2 linked regions of the Homo sapiens genome follow. Each later gene encodes a partner of the first gene's protein in a complex. Each region holds a gene or a part of one and is shown on either strand. Other genes may lie near its edges. A codon is read from its position in the direction of its gene.

What was found.
Region 2: the proteins of NPPC (region 1) and NPR3 are in contact, whole or in part, in a crystal structure (PDB 1JDP), measured with the Homo sapiens proteins. Residues at the interface, in NP_077720.1 of Homo sapiens: Gly109 (codon at 5,282), Cys110 (codon at 5,285), Phe111 (codon at 5,288), Gly112 (codon at 5,291), Leu113 (codon at 5,294), Lys114 (codon at 5,297), Leu115 (codon at 5,300), Asp116 (codon at 5,303), Arg117 (codon at 5,306), Ile118 (codon at 5,309), Gly119 (codon at 5,312), Ser120 (codon at 5,315), Met121 (codon at 5,318), Ser122 (codon at 5,321), Gly123 (codon at 5,324), Leu124 (codon at 5,327), Gly125 (codon at 5,330), Cys126 (codon at 5,333); in NP_001191304.1 of Homo sapiens: Asn110, Tyr138, Ala141, Pro142, Arg145, Ala161, Gly163, Phe164, His166, Glu170, Tyr171, Tyr204, Lys208, Leu209, Arg211, Tyr214, Phe215, Leu217, Glu218, His221, Glu222, Gln225, Ile233.

What each region holds. Positions count from the first base shown.
Region 1 is NC_000002.12:231,923,333-231,930,762, reverse strand, and holds the start of NPPC (C-type natriuretic peptide preproprotein), read left to right. Parts: upstream 1-4,366; 5' UTR 4,367-4,513; coding exon 4,514-4,603; intron 4,604-5,047; coding exon 5,048-5,338; 3' UTR 5,339-5,358; intron 5,359-6,297; exon of another isoform or gene 6,298-7,430.
Region 2 is NC_000005.10:32,784,170-32,791,320, reverse strand, and holds part of NPR3 (atrial natriuretic peptide receptor 3 isoform 1 precursor), read right to left. Parts: intron 6,526-7,151; coding exon 6,438-6,525; intron 5,088-6,437; coding exon 4,976-5,087; 3' UTR 1-4,975. UniProt on the Homo sapiens protein: Receptor for the natriuretic peptide hormones, binding with similar affinities atrial natriuretic peptide NPPA/ANP, brain natriuretic peptide NPPB/BNP, and C-type natriuretic peptide NPPC/CNP.

The sequences.
Region 1 (7,430 bases):
CTGGAATCTCTGGCCCGTGAAGGATGAATGACGCTTCCTTGGCCTCCATCTCCTCCAGTACTCCAGTCCAGCGCCATGGGTGCAGGACTCCTGGAGGAAGGTACCAAGCTCAAGGAGACCTGGCCATGCCCCGGCCTCTGTGTGCTCTGAGGGGCTGCACCACTAAACAGTCCTGGGGAGTTTCGGGGGCTGTGGGGGTCCTCTCACCCAAAAGTATGTGTGGACATGCAGTGACATTCAGATCTCTCTTCTGCCTCAGCTGTCTCCTGCTGTGTTTGGCCAGGGAGAGGTTGGAAGCCTCTTATCAGGCCCCAGATTCACTCTGCCCTGTCTAGAAGACAAGGACAGTGTTTTTCTAATTACAGGTGGTGAAACTGAGGGCCCAAAGCAGTGACGGGACTTGGCCAGTGTCCCGCAGCAATTTCCCTGCCTGACCTCAAGACTCGCTCACTGCCTGTTTAGTGTCTTCTCTGAGAAATTATGCAGCTGGAAGGGGGCCCCGGGATAAACAATTGCAGAGAAACAGATGGGCGGCTCTGCAATCCTCCCCTCCAGTGTGCCTGAGAGCCCTCCCCTGCAGCCCTGGGGCCAGGAGGGGGCGCTGCTTCGCGGGGCTCCTGTTCCTCCCTCCTGGGGACCTAGGCTGGACAGTCCTGTCTTAGCTGCTCCTTCCCCAGCCTCCCAGCAGCCCTTCCACACGCCTTTCTCCCACCAGGCATCCTGACCAGGGCCCACTCTCATTTTCTATCACATCCTGATTCCTGGCCAGACATCGCCTGTCCCAAGGAAGGGCCCCTCTCCAGTAGGTGTCAGAGTCGCACCTTGCCCTTCTGGGAGGAGGGAAAGAGTGAAAAGGGGCCCACAAAACGGGGTCCCGCCCTTCAGAGGGCCAGAAGGGAGAAAATGGTCCCACCCATGCAACTCTCCGACGCTGAAGGCCCTGCATACCCCCAGCCTACTGTGGCAGAGCTGATACCCTGGACTCGCCCATGCAACTCTCTGACACTGAAGGCTCTGCATGCTTCAGGCTGGCTCTGCCTCCCACTTCCTGCTCCCTCCCACTTCCCCCACACCTAGCTGACCCCCTTCCCCTTGCCTCATCTTCAGGCACCCCCAATAAGCTCACTTGCCCTTCCCACCCCCAAGAGCTCAGCAGGCTCCTCTCTCTCCATCACACCCCCCACCTCCAGAACACCATCGACCTTAGAATTGCCTCTCCCTAGTCTGCCTCCTCTGGGCACCCCTGCCTGAAGCACTCCACCCTCCCGAGGTCTGGGCACATGGGGTTCTGCAGTCTCATCGGCCTCCCCTGCCCTCTGTGTTGCCCTTTGGTGAGGCCTCTCATTTGGTTTTTCTCAAACAGCACCCCTCTAGGCCTGACTCTAGTACATTCCACTGTTAGCCTGGTTTTCTGTCGAGGTTTTCCTCTTCTCTTCCCTTCTCTTCCTGTGTTTCCAGGCTCAGCACAGACTTTTCCTTCTCCAGGAAGCCCACCCTGCTAGTCCAGGCTGGAGGAGGAGCCCTCCTTGGGTGGCCTCAGCCTGACCTGTCCCCTTCCCTGTCATTGTCCTTTTCAGCCTACAAAGCTCATGTCTGTCTGCTAGGGGGTTCTTCCCGGCTGGATGGAACCCTGCAGGCTTCAGGGATGCTCAGTAGATACCGGGAGATCAGCGAGATCAGTGAGAACGACATGATTCCTTACAGAATTACCGCGGCCTTGGGGCCTTTTCTCCCTCTTTTGCCGTTAGGAGGAAATTTAAAATTGAGCAGTCAATAAAATGACTTGAATAGCTCATATTCAGCTGCTCAGTGAGTTCAACTTTCCCAGGCCATGCCCCTGGGGCCTGGGGCAGAAGAAGCAGACTTCGTAAGGGAAAAGCAACAAAAAGGGACCTGAGTTCCAAATCTAGGCTCAGGAGGAAGAGTGGGCGTCCTCTGCAGCTCCCCAGGCAAGGAAAGCAAAGGGAGAGGGGAAACCTTCATCTCCAAGGCAGTTATGTGCTGATGGCACACCTCCCGGTGGCCCCTCCTGCCCAGGCCTCTGACTCTTACCCACCCTGCCTCCCAGGCCCCAGCTAAGCAGAAGCTGCTCCACAGCCTGCCCCCCGGGAAGCCTCCCTCTGCAGATGACCACCGCCCAGTGGTCAGGAGTGGCAGCTCACCAGATTTCCCTTCCAAAGATGGGAAGGTGAGTCCAGGGAATCGGCTCTGCCACAGTAGGTTGGGGGTGTCAGTTTTATTAATTTAGCCTCAAAGTTCAAACAGAGAGGAGACCTAGATAGTCAATCACCTGGACGCGAATGTGTCTAGGAACACAGAAGACAGGAAGGACCAACCTAAGGACGTTCAGACAGAAGGAAGTAGCCATGAACAGCGGAAGATTTCCTTAATAAGGGGCTTTAGAGGATGTACTGCTGGCCCCTGGAAACCAGCCCAGTGCTTGACTCTAGAGTCAGTCTGTGTGGCTCTGCCTGACTCTTTAAACAGGTATAAAGAAAGCAAGTGTCAGAGAAGTTCCAGATGGTAACATCCTTCTTTGCACAGCAGGCAAAAAGCAGAGGGAACTTTCACAGCCCACCTGGATACCCCTCCCTATACTGCTTTCTAGTTCCTCTTCCTTTCTCCTCAAATGAAAGAGTGGTGCCACTCTATGGGTGTTAGCACGGAGAGGAATTGGGGGGCTGCGTGGAGGTGGTGACTCAATTCACCAGAATCCACAGAAGGTGCCCTGTTGATGTCTGGATCTTCCTGGAGATCAGGAAACTTTGCTGCCCCAAACTCAGACCTCAGGTGTTAGCTGTTTCCTAAGCAAAGTGACCTGTGTAGTGGTTGCTCCAATGTTGTGAGTCAGGGTATGAGAGTGGGAAGGGGTAGCCTGAGAAAGGTGCCGACAGAGCAGACCATGATGCGGCCGCCTTAGCAGCTCTGGGACCAGGCTCACTACCACGGAGGGAAGAGGGAGGCTTGGAGGGAACCTGGTTCTCCAAGCCCCTCTTCACTCCAGTTGCCTTCCTGCCTCAGGCACAGCTTCCTCTCCCTGGAAAATCTCGTCTGGGCTACTGTCTCCCCAGAATCGCCTTCACGCCTGGGGACAGCCACTGCACTCCTGCGGCAACATTTGTTCTCTCTCCAGCCTGCGTCCTGCTCAGCAGCAGCCAGTCATAGATTCCTGCTCTTCAATCAATTCGGGGGATCTGGGCTCTCCGCCTCTGCGGCCCACACCGCAGTGCCCAAATGCCCACCACACTCCTTAGTGTCCAAGGGACCGAGAAGCCCAGTGCAAGGAGAGCAAGTTCGTGAGTGGTAGGGATATGTGGCCATGTCCCGAGAGCCACGGGGACCTCTCTACAGTCAAAAACGGGAAGTTGACCACCTGTCACGGCTGGCAGAGGCTGGACTGGGCCGCTGGCTAGGAAGCTCTCTCCCCAGCCTGTGAAAGTGCACAGGATACTGGAGCGGGCTTCCCCCAGCAGCGGATCCTCGCGTGGGTGCAGGCAAGGTCAGGTGCGCATTGTTCCCACAGAGGGAGTTCACCAGCGGAGTCAGACCCCGGGACGTTCTGTGTGGCCGAAACCGGCTGAACGTGAACCTAGAGCAGTAACTGGCGAGCATACGATGCCGCGGAGCACACGCATGAGCATGAATATCTTGGTTCCGCGCTCGCAGTCCCCTCGTTCCCGCCTTGCGCTCAAACACTCAGGCTGGCGACACCCCTGCACTCTCCAGTGTGGAAGACTTGCGCTCCCCCCTGCGGCCCAGGCGAACCCCGCTCTCCCTGCGCCTCCCACCCCAGTCCTCCAACCCCATCCTCTGCCTCCCCAACCTAACGACGTCGCTGTGGTCTGCGCTCCCGCCCTGACCGGCAGGTGAAAGGCGGAGCTGCAATGCCATCCCGCGGCTGTCAGGTGCCCAGGGAAGAGTTTGGCGACAAGCAGGGCTGCGTGGATTTCGGGCAGCGCCAACTTTATGCCTGTATGACTTTGGGCAAGTGACTTCATTCCTCTGAGCCTGTCTTTGCACCTGCAAAGAGGGCTACGTATCCCTTCCAGGTAGAGTGAGTGCGATGAGGACCTAGTGGGTGCACAGGGCACCAGGCGCACCGATGCTCGGCAGGCCAGGGCGCGCGCTCGCTGCAAATGGAGTTCCCCTGTGCGCTCAGCTCTGCAGCTCCAAGTGCAGCCTGGAGCGAGCCCGCCGAGCCGCGGGATCCCTCCGGGGTGGGATAAGGGAGGGGAGCCCCCGCGGCCCCCTCCCGGCCCTCGGCGCGGCCGCGTGCGTGGTGTCATTGGCCCGGGCGGCCCGGTGGGCGGGAGGATGACATCAGCGGCAGGTTGGATTATAAAGGCGCGAGCAGAGTCACGGGCTCAGAGCGCACCCAGCCGGCGCCGCGCAGCACTGGGACCCTGCTCGCCCTGCAGCCCAGCCAGCCTGCTCCGCATCCCCCTGCTGGTCTGCCCGCCGACCTGCGCGCCCTCGCTGCCGCCCGTGTGCGCCCCTCGACCCCAGCGGCACCATGCATCTCTCCCAGCTGCTGGCCTGCGCCCTGCTGCTCACGCTGCTCTCCCTCCGGCCCTCCGAAGCCAAGCCCGGGGCGCCGCCGAAGGTGGGTGCTGTCGTGGGGACGCCGAGCCTGGGAGAGGCGTGGGAGGCTGGGGGCTTGGAGAATGCGGCGCGCAGGACCCAGGAGAGAGGGAAGGCAGGCGGCTGTCTCCTCCGAGATGCGCGTGGGCGAGAGCCGGGGAGCCCTCGAAGCGCGGATTCGGGGGTCCACTTCTCCAGCCTCCGGAGAACATCGGCCCATGCGCAGCCCCCTACCCCAGTGTGGCCTGCCCGGCGAGCAGCAAAGGGAGGGCAGGGGGCTTCCGGAGGGAGCGGCGAAGGCGGCCGCGTGGCAGGTGGATGCGGGGCCAAGCTGGCCGGCATCGGTGGGGGCGGCTCTGGGCTTGGGAGGGACACCCCGCGCCGGCGGGCGCGTGGGGCTGGAGCATCAGAGTCCCCCGTGCTGCAGCCGCGTGTCCCTTCACCTGCCCGCTCTTTCCTCGGACAGGTCCCGCGAACCCCGCCGGCAGAGGAGCTGGCCGAGCCGCAGGCTGCGGGCGGCGGTCAGAAGAAGGGCGACAAGGCTCCCGGGGGCGGGGGCGCCAATCTCAAGGGCGACCGGTCGCGACTGCTCCGGGACCTGCGCGTGGACACCAAGTCGCGGGCAGCGTGGGCTCGCCTTCTGCAAGAGCACCCCAACGCGCGCAAATACAAAGGAGCCAACAAGAAGGGCTTGTCCAAGGGCTGCTTCGGCCTCAAGCTGGACCGAATCGGCTCCATGAGCGGCCTGGGATGTTAGTGCGGCGCCCCCTGGCGGCGGTGAGTACGGCCCACCCGACGCCCAGCCCCAGCCCGGCCCGGGACCGCCCGCCGCCCAGCCGGCCTTCGGAGGCGCGCGAGCCGCCTTTGCTCAAGTTGTGCTAGGCGTTTGCCAGCCGCCCCCTTTATTATCCCACTTTACAGACAAAGAAAGCGAAGGATAACGTGATCGGGGAACTTTGGCAAGGTCAGAAACGGCTCAGCCTGGTTGAACCCACCTGGCTTCTTCTGGAGAAGCAGAAACAGGCTTGGTGGTGTCTCACCCACCCCTGAACCGTAGCTGAACTAGCAGCACTGGCCCCTATTGGCCAGCTGGTGGGGGGATTGAGAGGAGATCATGGGTTTGTGGGAGCAGAGAAGGAAGGTTACACCCACAAGTCCAGGGGACATCGATCATCTGCTGGCCACCATGCCCCCTGTAGTGAGAGTAGCCCTCTGCTGGCACTGTCAGAGCGCCCTTCTGCCTGGGACACTCCGATTCCTGTCCCTTCTCTAAACCCAGGCAGTGGGCAAACTGGTCTGTCCAGGGTCCTGAGGCAGCTGCAGCCTGGTGGCTTCGGGGGTGAATCTCAGTGCTTGTGGCACTATTTCAGGGAATAGGAAAGACACTAAAGTAAATATTATTTGCCCCAGCCTCGAACTCAACACGTCCCAGAGTCCCTCACCAACCCTGTCCCGACCCAACCGGTGCTCTGGGCTCCGTTTCTGGTGTGGGGTCTCACCCCGCACTAGGGCTGGAAACCTCTGCCCTACCGCCACCCCCTGCCGGGTGCCGCGTGGTGGTAATTTACTGCTGCAGAGAGCCTCACCTCTCCTCTTTCCCTCCTCTCTATTCCTGCCGCCTGCCCGTGCCCACTGAATAACATCCCAGCCTCTGACATTGACAGTCATGTGCGTTAGGATCAGGCTTACCTGGCTTTCTCGCTTTCTTGCCTCCAGCTCAGCAGCTGCCACTGCCTGTCCCACACCTTGACTGTCCCATCCCAGGCTACGGGCAAGCTGCTGTCTCCTCCCCAGAAACCCTTGTCAGTGTCGGATCTTCTCCCGGAGGGAAACAAGAGCGCCTGTCCAGCACACTGTCTCTTTTTTACAGTACAGAACACTTTTTCACAGTTTGTGAACCCATTCACCTCTCCATATTGAACAGCTTAAGGGCGAAGTGCTGGCCTAAGGCACTCTAGGACCCACTGCACCCCGAACAGACTCGTGGAAATATTTGTCAATGACCAGAGAAACCAGCACACCCTGGCCCATGGCCACTCCCACCTGCCCGAGGTTTTAACCAGTGCCCTTCCTCTCTTTGCAGCCAGACCTCACTCGGCTGTGGGCCTCTCCCCAGTTCTGCAAAGGCTGTAGTTGTCTGTGATCTTGACTCTCCCCTGCACAGGGAGAAGAATGATTCTGACACTTGGGGACCAGCCTTCAGTAGCTACCCTTGGAATGCCTTTGCTCTCTTCTCTCCTGTCTAAACAACAAAGAGACGGAGTCTGAGGCCTCAAATTTTCAGTTTGATTTAAGCATCAAGTTCAAACTTTAGAACCTGAGCAAATGTTAGTGACTCTCCATTGGTTCGTACCTGGAATGCGCATCCCCACAGGGGCTTTGTTCTTGGGCCTGGATGTCTGTGGTCACCAAGTGATGGCCAAACGGGTGGTGAAAGATGCTGTGTAGGAGGAATCCACATTGTTAAGAATTCTCGACCCCTTTGATCAGGGGGGTTCAATAATCTCCTACCAGCTCTCTTAGCATAGATGAACACTTACCGTCGACACCTTCAACACCGGCTTACGCCCAACACCAGCTGTTTTATTATTATTTGGGAAGGGCGGTGTGGATTTATTATTTGGGATTTTTTAAATGAAAAATAAAAACCCCACCCTCACTGCCCCCCATTCCCAGTGAGAGAGCAGAACATCATTCCTGCAGGCTCCTGGTGACGATGCCCAGGATATATCACTGGGCGTAAAGAGAAAGACAGCTTAGATTTTTCACATTAATGAAAACTCTTTGAGGTTGTGGCTGTTTCTCCACGCAGTGGGTGACCTGGGCTCTAAGCCACCGTAATGATGGTG
Region 2 (7,151 bases), on another chromosome or scaffold:
AATTGGTCTGTCACAAGGTCTATCCCATGTCCTCTTGGTTTCAATTATCCACCATGCACAGGGAACAAAGCTCAGATTCCCAGGACCCAACACAAAGGTCTGCAACGAACAAACTCACAGCAACTCCATGCTGTTCAGGGGCTACTTCATTGTTGTCTTATAAGATGTTGAAGATTTTCAGATCTTGGCAATAAATAATGAAGAGGCCACCCTGTTTCCAAATCTGAATTTGCCTCTTTTTTAGCCATCTCTGTCCAACTATCATGCACCGTGACAGCTTTGTTCTCCTAGCAAATAAGAAATATTTTGGTAGCCTATGTTGTGATTTACACTTGGTAAGTAGGCCCTTTATTCCTTGTGCATAGAAATTTAGGTCTTTAAACATGAATCAAAGCAATGCAGCATTTTTGCTAACACTTAATTCTGCTTGTTCAAATCTCTCCCCTATGAATCATCTCCCACTGATATATCACAGAGCTATTATAAAATGGATTTTTACTCATGAGATCTGGCTCCCATTGAAACACTTCCATTGTGTTTGAAGTCACTTAAAACTTGAACACTGACAGCATCAGCTGGTTTAGAATACTTTGCATTTGGTATGAATTAACATTAGTGGTTAATGAGAAATTTGAACAAACTCCAATCCAGCACCTTTTGGAAGTTATTTTAATCCTGCAGTCTAGCTGTGGGGTATGCCTGCAAGAGATATTTATGGAATGTGCATGCTGAACACCAAAGCCAGGCTTGTTGGAGTTTATGCACATCACAGGCTTGAACTTCCCCGAGAGCAAGTGTGGTCAGGTTAGCATAAGGGTTCTGATGAAAAGCCAGCTACATTCTTAAAACCAGCACTAGTTTCTCTTTCTTCCCCCGAGGAAGTATGGAGGCCTACTCACAAATTTCTACCTGCATGGGCAAGATGCTGACACATCCTTGGAGTGATGCTGAATGTGGATGTGGGTGGAGGGGCAGAAGGGGCAGTAAAGACAGTGGCAATGGGCAAAGCTACCCTCTTCTATTTCTGTTAGAGGATCAAGCTTCTGATTCTTCTTGCTGAGTATGGCTGTTGAAGGGGCACTAAATTATTGATTATTCTTGAGTTCTAAAGACAACTGAAAAAGAAGCTGGTCCCTCTGAACACCATCATCTCATTCTCTCCGCTTCCACAATTGCCTCTAAAATATATCCCGTGTTTTTAGACAGTTTCAGTTTTTTCCACTGAATAAGAAATTCAGCTCATTACCAACTTCCTCATGTAGCCCCAAACCATGGGGTGTGATTAAATAAAACCCATGAAATGTCTGTAGGTCGAGGGGCCTAATTTGGGCTGACATTTACTCTCATGTCTGCATCCACTCAGGATCTGAGTGCTTTGTGTCCCAAGAAACACAGGTACTTGTTCCTTCCAGTTTATAAACACTCACAGTGGCATAATACTCTATTTGATCTCCCAAAGAGATTTCCACAAATAGCCAGTGTATACTGGCTTACAAGAAGGTAGTGACGCCACTGGAACCTACTTTCTGAATCCATCACTATCTGCATGAGATCTATGCAATGGCCTTCATCTCATTGTTGACTGCATGTCTTACACACACACACCCAAAATCAGCCATAACTAAAAGGAAAGTGATGCATTTGGGGCAAAGAAGGCACATGTGCCTTGAGTAAATTAATGATTTTAGAAGCCTGTGAATAGGGAGAAGTGAGGGCATTCCAAAGCAAACGTCTTTGAATTTAAGAGAAAGGAGAAAAGGAGGTGTTCTTTTCCCATGCATTTCTCTCTTCCCTCCATTAAACATGGGTTCTGAAATGTGAAGAATTATAGTAGGGTCTGTAGAACCATTCCTGTGGTTCAAGAAAAGACAAGTTGATGGTTCTTCAGAGAAATGTGATGTTTTCAGGGACCTTCTCATGAAACCTGTGGTCAGTCTTGAGGGAGAGATGGACTCTATACAAAAAATTCTTTCCAGATTGAAGTTATCTGGGGAACGCTTTTATTTCTGAGTCTCCCCCTACCTGGCCCCCCTACCCAAAAATCTAAGAAGACAATGATGACCATAAGACAGACACTTATTTCCAACACCAAAAAGCATCTACGCATTTTGACCTGTATCAATGTCAGCTGAAGTTTGACTGGATGAGAAAATACTGATAAATTATCCTTTTTGAAATCTGAACACCCTGGATTTCAGGGTAAAATCCTATAGAATTACTTAAGAACTAAAGCCCTATTTATTTTACTATATGACATGTGACTACTAGTAGAGTATGAATTACTAGTTGTCAAAGATGTTGCTTAGCAGTTAGGAACGTAAATCCCCAAATATAATCATGAGAGACCTGAATCCAGGGTAACCATGGGCCAGGCACCTACATTTTTAACCAAGGTTTCCAACTTAATGGAATTTTCAAAACCTAACAGAGTTTTTGTAACCCATATGCAGATTTCAAAGAAAAAAAGTAGATGACTGACATGTAAATAAGCAATCAATATTAACATAAGAATTGATTTTAAATTGGTATAGCATCCAGAAACCTCATGATTTGTTCTGCCACTTTTAGAATACTAAATGCTCACTTATCTCTAAGATCTTATCTAGAGCTATCATATTAAGTTTAGGACTATTCCTCTACCTGAAGTTAAAATAGAATATATTTGCTCTAAAAATGTTAGTGTTAATGGGCTGCTATAGAAGTTTTAAAAAGGTTAGAAATGTTTATACTCAAAGACTGCAACCAGGTAGATTATTTTTCCCCTGTAATAAGCACATAGACTTGAAATGTAAATGCTTTTTACAAGCACAAGATAAGAGAAAATGAATATCTCTAAAATATAAAGAAAACATCATTGAAAAATAAAAATGAGAGAGAAACAAGCTCTCCAATTCAAGTAAGTAAGATGGACACAATCCTTCCTTGCTGTTTCACTTTGGGGAGTCCCAAGTGGTACAACGCTTTGCTTGCCTGGATTTTACTTCTCAAACTCTCTTCCTGCACTAGAACTTCTGGAGTTTGCCCTTCTTGCCTTCTTCTTCCATCCTTTTTGGAATTCGACACTTTTTCCTTTGCATCCAGCATGGAGAACTACAACATAGTTGTTTCAGTTGATCACACTTAATTCTTTTATCACGCCCTCTCAGCTGCCTCCCAGCTCCCATTTCTTAAACAACAGAAGGGAAATGTGCCTCACACAGAAATAATCTGTTAACTGTGACTCAGGTGGGAGCAACAGAAGCGGACTTCTCCAGGGAAGCACTCACACATGGGCCAGCATCTGGGACAGGCAGCTTGCGCTTACCTTTGCCTCCACTGTTACTTGTGTGAACTACCACCTTCATCGCCACCAAGGGATTGCTCAGACTCTCCTGTTTCCTCACTAGACATGCCTTTTAATAGATATTAAGACAATTTTTTAAACTATTTTTCAGATGCTCAAAATGTTATTGAGGAAAGACCCCAGTTATGTAATTCCAAGACGGTGCACTCTCATGACAGCTTCCCATTCCTCCCTCACTGTCTATCTTCTCCATAAAGTATAAGTGAAAGTAGTAACCTGAGTTTAAACTCATGTTGCAGACTACTGGGTGCAAAGCAGATACCCAGTAAAAACTTACTCAACTTTGTCCAAATTCCTTATCTCCACACCTAACCCACTATTACAGGTATTCATGGATGCCTACAAAGTTCTGTGGAGTTAACTGAAAGGGAATAGAGTAGATATTTAGGTTCCCTCTTTTAAACAAAATAATCACTGGGAATTTTGGTAAATGCCATGTGTAAAAGTTTTAAATTTGTCATTTCTGTGCTTGCTGTCAAGTAGTAACTCTCAACAAAGTTGTTCTTGAGGGAAAAGGGCTGCCTCCCTTTATAAAACTGTTTAATTCTAATAACTTTTTACTCTTGATCTTGAAACTCATGATCTGGCCAGAACTGGAAGGAGTGTCACCCTAAAATAACTTGCATTTAAAACAGTTAAACAGTAAAAACGCAAAAGAGTTAAAATGTTGATGTATTCCTGTAGAGTTTGTAATCTGAATACATTTACACATCTCTGTAATTAAAGCAGCAATTAGCATTTGGCTGTGGCCAAGGGAAAAAGGGAAACAGGGAGAAAAAGAGAAGTATTTTTTATCATTATTGGTTTGTTGTACACTTCACCCATGCTTTTAAAATGTAAGCAACATTTAATCTTCAAAATGAAAAAATAGACAAATTTTTCTAATACCAAAATATAAGATTAAAATACTTGTAAAATAAAATGTTAGTGCGAAATAGGGCTTTTTTTTTTTACATCAAAAAGGAAATATTTTTGACTTGCTTTTCTTCTGTAAATCCTCCCATCTCACTAATATTTACAACAATCCAGAGTAGCGTTTATGAGACACTGAAAAAGACAGGGAGGAAATCCTTTTTCAAGATATGAAGTCAGAACCTGAATGTAGACATCGGACAGAGAAGTCCTCAACCACAAACCTGTCCTCCAGCTCTAGAGAGAGTAAGGCTGTATTTCCAACCTTGAGATTTTTCATTACATTTTCCCCTTTTTGGGTGTTAAATTCTTTCCAAGAATGCTGTACTTGTAAAAATGATTTTATTCTAGCTACAAAACATTTCATTTAAGAAAACCGCATTTTATATCCTTGTGTGAAATGCTCCCAAAAGCCATCAAGATATGGAGACAACAGATTTTAAAAACATAAATCTAATCATATGGGCTTGAAACAGTATGAACATTTAACAGAGTGACACGATATCATTATTATATTTGTTTGTCATGAGATGAAAGGCCTGGAGGCAGATGGTGATTAATCATAATTCCTGAGCTTCTACAGAAATTTTAAAATGAAATTACTAACTGCTTAAAATTATGAATTCTTCAAGAACGCCCCTTCTGTTTCATTGATGTCTTTCAACCCGTCTATCTCCTTAAAGAATCTCAGGCAGAAAAAAAAAAAGTGGGGGGCTTCCTTTAAGCTACTGAAAAATGGGATCTGATGGAATCTTCCCGTAATTCCCGATGTTTTCCAAGGTTACTTTCTTCTTGCTGGGTTCGCCTCTCAATGGTTATTCTGTATTTCTTCCTGGGTAAAGGGAAAGTGAATGTGGTAATAAAACTTGGCTACAAAATACCATGGTTTCTCTTACAAAGAGTGCCCTCAAGGGACATCTGGGTTTCAGTTGATAAATGAGAAGTGACAGAATATGAAACCCTGGTCAGAGATTAAAGTAGTGTGCCCCCAGGCATGGTGCCCTTATTCAAGAGAGAAAATTGGCATGCTTTCCCAAATACCACAGAACAAGCCTTCCCCTTCTTCCCTGGGTGCCTTGGGGGTTAGGTCTTGTCTATTAGGCTACAGAAGTTCTCCCTGATTCCCAGGATATGCCCTTGATAAAGATCAAATTACATGTACTGTGGCCAAAGGAACAGGAATACAATTGTTCCCACAAAGGGTCACATATGCCTAGTTACAATCCCATGCAGAAATAAAGAAACCTTGCTCTAATGACTTATGAATAAACCACAAACTCAACCACCAAAGATTACAAAGGAATGGGCCACCCTCACGGGGCAGAACAATCAGTACCAGTGCACACACGTACATTATTACAATTTTGCAAGCCTTGGAGCTTAACCACAGTGGCAAATGAGCATGTGGGCTCTCCAGATACTGAGCACAGATCAGCCTGAGAGCATGGGCTACGCAAAGCTCCCTCCTCCTCTTTAAGGTGAGCCCAGGCATCTATTTCTGAATTGGAGAAAGCCTGAGAAGGGGGAAGTTGATTTCCCCCTTTATCCAGATTCCCTCCCCACTGCTTCACTTGGTGGGTGGTAGGAATTCTTGTCAGAATATCTGTGATCAAAGGGCTAGACACAGTGGCTCACACCTGTAATCCCAGCACTTTGGGAGGTCGAGGTAGATGGATCACTGGAGGTCAGGAGTTCAAGACCAACCTGGCCAACATGGTGAAACCCCATCTCTAATAAACATACAAAAAATTAGCCAGCCATGGTGGTCTGCACCTGTAGTCCCAGCTCCTCGTGAGGCTGAGGCAGAATTGCTTGAACCCAGGAGGTGGAGGTTGCAGTGAACAGAGATCGTGCCACTGCACTCCAGCCTGGGTAACAGGGGGACTGAGACTCCGTCTCAAAAAAAAAAAAAAAAAAAAAAAAAAAATCTGTGATCAAAGGGCAGCAGCAGCTCTCTGTCCCACTGTGAGATGTAGTCAAAACCCATGACCCTGGCACCCAGTATGCTAAACCACTGACCACACCAAACCTGGGGTCCTGCCAAAAGAATGGCTGAGATTTTTTAACCACCGTGCTTCCTGGGTGAAAGAGGGATGTGGACAAATCACAAAGAGAATCATGTAAAATCAAATGACAAAGACAGCAGAAGAGAGTGAATTGTACCTTTACAAACCGTCCTCACCTGAAAAAGTAGAAGGCCATTAGCAAGCCAGCTCCTAGTAAAGCCCCCACGACAATTCCTGTCACTGCCGATTCTTCTAGGCCACCTGCTTGAAAAAGAAGCATGGATAATCAGGGTTCATTTGGAGATACAGTTAGAAATGCCTCGAGTTTCATTCATTGCAAGAAGTTCCTCGATTTCCCATTGGAGGCAACTTTTCCTTTTTCAGAAATATTTTCTAAGGGACCCTACACTTGTTTTTTGTTTTATGTTTTTGTTTGTTTGTTTTTGCCCAGTGCAAAGCTTAAGAACCACTTGAGAAAGTGCCAGATAAACAAAAACACTATTAAGAGAGTGGACACAGTGAGAACAGAAGAAAATTCAAGAATCAGAGGAAAACTGGAACTGAAGATTTCAGATATAGCCACTCTCTTTTGAGTTTAAAGTCAAAGAATTGGGAGGCCAAGGTGGGTGGATCACCTGAGGTCAGGAGTTTGAGACCAGCCTGGTCAACATGGTGAAACCCTATCTCTACTAAAAATACAAAAATCAGCTGGGTGTGGTGGCAGGCACCTGTAATCCCAGCTACTCAGGAGGCTGAGGCAAGAGAATCACTTGAACCTGGAAGGTGGAGGTTGCAACGAGCCAGGATCACACCACTGCACATGAGTCTGGGTGAGACAGCAAGACTATCTCAAAATAAATAAATAAAGTCAAAGAAGACAACCAGATGGA